2 separate regions of the Homo sapiens genome follow, and region 2 is linked to region 1. A link means that fine-mapping ties the variant in region 1 to the expression of a gene that starts in the linked region. Tissue or cell type: whole blood. Region 1 holds a variant in brackets; the other region holds the start of a gene. All regions are shown on one strand. Distances are between the middles of the regions.

Evidence for each region. PIP is the estimated chance that this variant, and not a neighbour inherited with it, causes the effect.
Region 2: RPL3L starts here. The variant in region 1 is fine-mapped to the expression of RPL3L in whole blood (INTERVAL, PIP 0.96).

Annotation. Positions count from the first base shown.
Region 1 is chr16:1,987,194-1,989,871 of GRCh38, reverse strand. GFER (growth factor, augmenter of liver regeneration) reads right to left here. Exons shown (of 3, transcript NM_005262.3): 3 at 2,123-2,678. Among named protein-coding and RNA genes, the nearest start is that of SYNGR3, 1.4 kb to the left of the region's middle. RefSeq lists an enhancer at 365-944. The variant T/C (reference allele first, on the strand shown) is at 1,399.
Region 2 is chr16:1,953,560-1,956,237 of GRCh38, reverse strand. It overlaps RPL3L (ribosomal protein L3 like), which reads left to right and starts at 1,549. Exons shown (of 10, transcript NM_005061.3): 1 at 1,549-1,609; 2 at 2,090-2,282. The coding sequence starts at 1,607. RefSeq lists an enhancer at 1,845-2,678.

The DNA.
Region 1 (2,678 bases):
TCTCCCTCCGCCGCGCCCACCTCCCATCCCCCACCCTCACCTGCCTGCCCCGGTCCCGAGATGGAGACCATCCTCAGGAACCCACCAGCCAGGTCCCCGGGGGCAGGGTGGGGCTCGGGTGCTGGGCGCAGACTTTGCTAGAGCCGGGAGGACAGACAGGAGGAGTCCGCTCCTCTGGGAAGGGCACTTGGGTGAGGGAGTAAAGGGGTAGGAGGTCCACGGGCTGCAGCATCTTCCCCCAACCCACGGGAGAGGGGACCGGCTCCCTGGCCCTGGTCCCAAGAAGACCAGATGGATAACTGGGGTCTTTCTCATGGCCCCCCACTGTGCTCTAGCTGCTATCACAGCTTCTAGCCTCTGGCGGGGAGGATCTGGTGGGAAGAAAGGCGTTGGCCCCAGGAGCACCTGTTGAGGGAGGGGACAGAGCCACCGTGGCCAGCGCCGCTGGGAGTGTTGGTTTCGGTGTCTCCGCTCCTTGCCCGTGGCCAGGTGGTGGTGCTCCCAATGCCCTCCCTACTCCTGGGTCTCCCCAGCGTACTTGCGGCGCCTAGTCTGGAATGGAGGGCAGGGAGCGGCATCAGAGACTAGGAGTCGGGTGGGGGTGGTGCCTGGCTGCCCTGTGTCCCGCTGAGTCCCCTCCACAGACCCCAGCCTTGGGTGCAACAAGGTCCCTCTCCTCATGTTCCTAGCAGGCTGGAAGTTCAGATGACTCCTAGGTTTCTGTCTAGAGCACTGAGATGTCTGCACTGACATTTACAGCGCCAAGCGCTTGACCTGTGTAGTGGCGGAGACTGTTACCACCCTGTACTTCAGATAATAAGCAACCCAGGTCCCTGCTACACGAGCCGGGTGCACAGATGGTGCTGCGTGGCCCAGCCCCCCTGGAGCTCATTCTTCAGCCTTGCTGGGCACAGGTGGGCAGAGCAGGTGTTGCCAGAGGCGCTACTCACTGTGTTCCAAGTCCATCACACTGTGCGTCCGATCACAACCCCTCTCACCTGTTGGCCACAGACCTCCCCTCTGTGTCATTCATTCTCTACTTCATCACTAACATCAGCACCCAGACATGCTGCACTTTCTCCTAAAAGCCAAACACTGTTGACCCCACCTCCCCTCCAGCTGCCTTACGTTACTGCTTCCTTTAGCAGCAAACTCTGCCTGCAACACCCTCCTCTCTCTCCCTCTGACCCGGCAGAATCAGCTCCCACCGCCACCTAAACTCAAGGTTGCCACTGACCTCTCCGTGCCAATCCCAAGGGCAAGTCTGATGCTGCTGTCGACTCATTTATTTCTTTAGTTATTTATTTATTTTTTGAGTTACAGTCGCACTCTGTTACCCAGGCTGGAGTGCAGTGGCGCAATCTTGGCTCACTGCAAGCTTTGCCTCAGGGGCTCAAG[T/C]GATTCTCCTACCTCAGCCACTGGAGTAGCTGGGATTCCAGGTGTGCCACCGCACCCAGCTAATTTTTTTTTTTTTTTTTTTTGTATTTTTAGTAGAGACGGGGTTTCGCCATGTTGACCAGGCTGGTCTCGAACTCCTGACTTCAAGTGATCTGCCCACCTTGGTTTCCCAAAGTGCTGGGATTACAGGCGTGAGCCACTATGCCCCTCCTGGAGGTCCTCCTCCCTCATGGGTCCTTCCTCTGTGACCTGTGAGCCTTAGGAGCCCAGGGCGCGATCCTGGGGAGGTCTCTCCCTCTGTGCTAACTCCTTTGGTCTGCGTGTCAACAGCTCTGGAACACCAGCTCAAGCCAGAACTTTTCCTTGCACTAGAGTTCCACTGGCCTGGATGCCTTCAAAAACAGACTCTGGCCTGGCGCAGTGGCTCACGCTTGTAATCTCAGCACCTTGGGAAGCTGAGGTGGGTGGTTCATGAGGTCAGGAGTTCAAGACCAGCCTGGCCAACACAGTGAAACCCTGTCTCTACTAAAAATACAAAAATTAGCAGGGGGTGGTGGTGGGCGCCTGTGATCCCAGCTGCTCGGGAGGCTGAGGCAGGAGAAATTGCTTGAACCCGGGAGATGGAGGTTGCAGTGAGCCGAGACTGCTCCACTGCACTCCAGCCTGGGCGACAGAGCTAGACTCTGTCTCAGAAAAACAAAACAACAACAAAAAGAAAAACAGATTCTAAGGCAAAGTGAAGTTTTATTCAGGAGTGAAACTTTAAGGAAGACAGGGAAAAAGGGAAGGCGGTGGGGGGGGCAGGGGGGCAGGGGAGGGACAGCAGATACAGGCGGTATGTTCCTAAGCTGAACACAGCCTTCCCAGAGGGCCCAGCTGCTTCCTGAGGCACTCACAGGCCTCGGGAAAGGCCAGAGAGAAGCGCGCTGTGTCTGGGCGAGGAAGGGACACCTCCTCTCCTGGCTGCCCCCCATCTCCCCTCTCTTATTTGTGCCACCTGGCCCCTCTGGGCAGCCTCTACAGAAGCCAGCAGCCGCACGGGGCCAATCTGGTGGGGACATAGCAGCTCCCTCCATGGAGGCCTGAGGCGGCCATGCCAAGGTGGGCCTGCGCCCAGGGAAAGGCTGAGACTCCTGGAGGATAGAGGTCCCTGGAGTTTTATGACCACAGGACACACTGTTGCTGGGCTGCTCTGGCTGGGGAGGCCCAAAGGCTGGGTCCCAGTCACCCCCCACCTTGCTGCACTCAGCCTTCTCCATCTCTGACCCACACGGCGGCTC
Region 2 (2,678 bases), 34 kb after region 1:
ATTACTGTGCCACTACATTTTAGCCTGGGCACCAGAGAGAAACCCTGTCTCAAAAAAAAAAAAAAAAAAAGAAAAAAAAATAAGATTTCAACCCCCTCTTCATTCAAAACTTAAATTCAAAATTTAAATTTGGCCAGGTGCTGTGGCTTATACCTGTAATCTCAGCACTTTGAGAGGCTGAGGCAGGAGAATCACTTGAGGCCAGGAGTTTCAGACCAGCCTAGGCAACATGGTGAGACGCCCGCCTCTACAACAAGACACATTTAAAAATTAGGTCCTGCTGAGGCAGAAGGACCACTTAAGCCCAAAAGGTTGAGGCTGCAAGTGAGGTATGATCACACCGCTGCATTCCAGCCTGAGCCATGGAATGAGACATTGTCTCTTTAAATAAGGCCAGGCGCGGTGGCTCATGCCTGTAATCCCAGCACTTTGGGAGGCTGAGGTAGGCAGATCACAAGGTCAGGAGATCGAGAACATCCTGGCTAACACAGTGAAACCTCGTCTCTACCAAAAATACAAAAAGGTAGCCGGGTGTGGTGGCAGGCGCCTGTAGTCCCAGCTACTTGGGAGGCTGAGGCAGGAGAATGGTGTGAACCCGGGAGGGGGAGCTTGCAGTGAGCCGAGATCACGCCTCTGCACTCCAGCCTGGGCAACAGAGCGACTCCATCTCAAAAAAATAAAAAAGATAAATTCATAAAAGTATTTCAATGATTGTGAATGACAGGAGTCAGATCTTGATTTTTTTTTTTTTTTTGAGACGGAGTCTTACCCTATTGCCCAGGCTGGAGTGCAGCGGCGCGATCTCGCCTCACTGCAACCTGCAACCTCTGCCTCCCAGGTTCAAGTGATTCTCCTGCCTCAGCCTCCCAAGTAGCTGGAATTAACAGGCCCACACCACCACGCCCGGCTAATTTTTATATTTTTAGTAGAGATGGGGTTTCACCATGTTGGCCAGGCTGGCTTTTTTTTTGTTTTTAAGACAGTGTCTCGCTCAGTCACGCAGGCTGGAGTGCAGTCAAGGTTCACTGCGGCCTGACATCCTGGGCTCAAGTGATCCTCCTGCCTCAGCCTCCCAAAGTGCTGGGATTACAGGCATGAGCCACTGCACTCAGCCAGGGATCTCAATCTGGAAGCACAGCTCTGGTGATCCTCAAGGTGCAGTCAGCCCTCCCCCTCGTCTGCCCTGTCCCCAGCCCTGCTCCCCGCTGTTTATCCAGCTGTCTCCCAGCCCTCAGGACAGGAACCCCCTCTGCCTCCAAGTCGGCAAACTGCTCCAGACCCCTCCTCTTGGCCGCTGCCTGGGAGAAGGCCCCCACCGGCTACCTTGGCCCCCACCTTGCCTGGCCAGTCCTGTCCTGGGAGGGTCATGACCCAGCCCCAGGGCCATCGAGGAAAGGAGTGCCAGCCCTGGCTCCGGGTGCCCCACTCAGGCTGTCTATCTGATGCCCCCAACACTGCCCCGCCCCTGCCTGCTCCTGGCACCGGAGACCCTGCTGACTGTGCCAGGGGCTAATCTGGGAACTGGCAGCTGTGAGTCCTGGCCCTGCCACTCGACCTCTGGCGGCTAGCGGCGAGGCCCCTTCCTGACCTTCAGGGATCGGCCACCATGGTTGGTGGGACCAGGGTGAGGGTGGGCTGGGGTTGGAGCTGGAACTCTGGGGGGGTGGGACAGCTGGGCTTCTGGATGCTCCCTCAGAGGGACAGTCTCCCAGCCTGTGAGGGGATGGGAGGCTGGAGGGGGAAACAAGGGGACGAGGGCTGGGCTCCTGGGCCTGGGAGGGCCCTGGAGATGAACAGATGGCAGCGGCCACCTGCCCCAGGAGCCCTTGGCTGCAGTATGGGTGCGACCCTCCTGGGCCCCAGGCTGAGCCCACAGAGGCAGGAAGCCTGTGGCTATGGAGACCCCATCCCAAAGACGCTGCCCCTTGGTGAACCTTCCTCTCCCCTCCTGTAGGCAGACAGGGGAGGTGCTGAGCACAGGCCTCAGTCTGAAGCCTGTAGTCCATTTCTCCAGGTATGGGTTCTGGGACCATCCAGCTCTACCACCAGGGACACCCCAGGTCTGACCTCCTTCCTTCCTGCCCCCCAGTCCCACCGGAAGTTTTCCGCCCCTCGGCACGGACACCTGGGCTTCCTGCCCCATAAGAGGAGCCACCGGCACCGGGGCAAGGTGAAGACGTGGCCGCGGGATGACCCCAGCCAGCCCGTGCACCTCACGGCCTTCCTGGGCTACAAGGCGGGCATGACCCACACCCTGCGGGAGGTGCACCGGCCGGGGCTCAGTGAGTCACAGTTGGGACCCTTGGGGGAGGGGGAGGGCTGAACCTTCCAGATGCTCGGAGCCAGAACTCACGCTTTTGGTCCAGACAGGGCCACAGTCCCAGGGAGCACCAGGCCTCGCCCCCGGGAATTGGGGTGGACGCTGAGCACAGGCAGGGCTTCCGGGCGGGTTCTGTCATGGCCCCAGCTCGCAGATGAGGACATTGAGGCACAAAGCAGTGAGGAACCTGGTCCAGTCACCGGGGCGGTAAGCGCAGGAGCTAGGATTCAAAGGCCAGCGCCCCAAGCCCTCGGTTCAAACCACCTGCCAGGACATCTGCACTTTTTGGCCATTTCGGGTCTATTTCATGTACCATTATTTCATATGTACGCCTATGTATATAGTTAGTTTTTGTTGT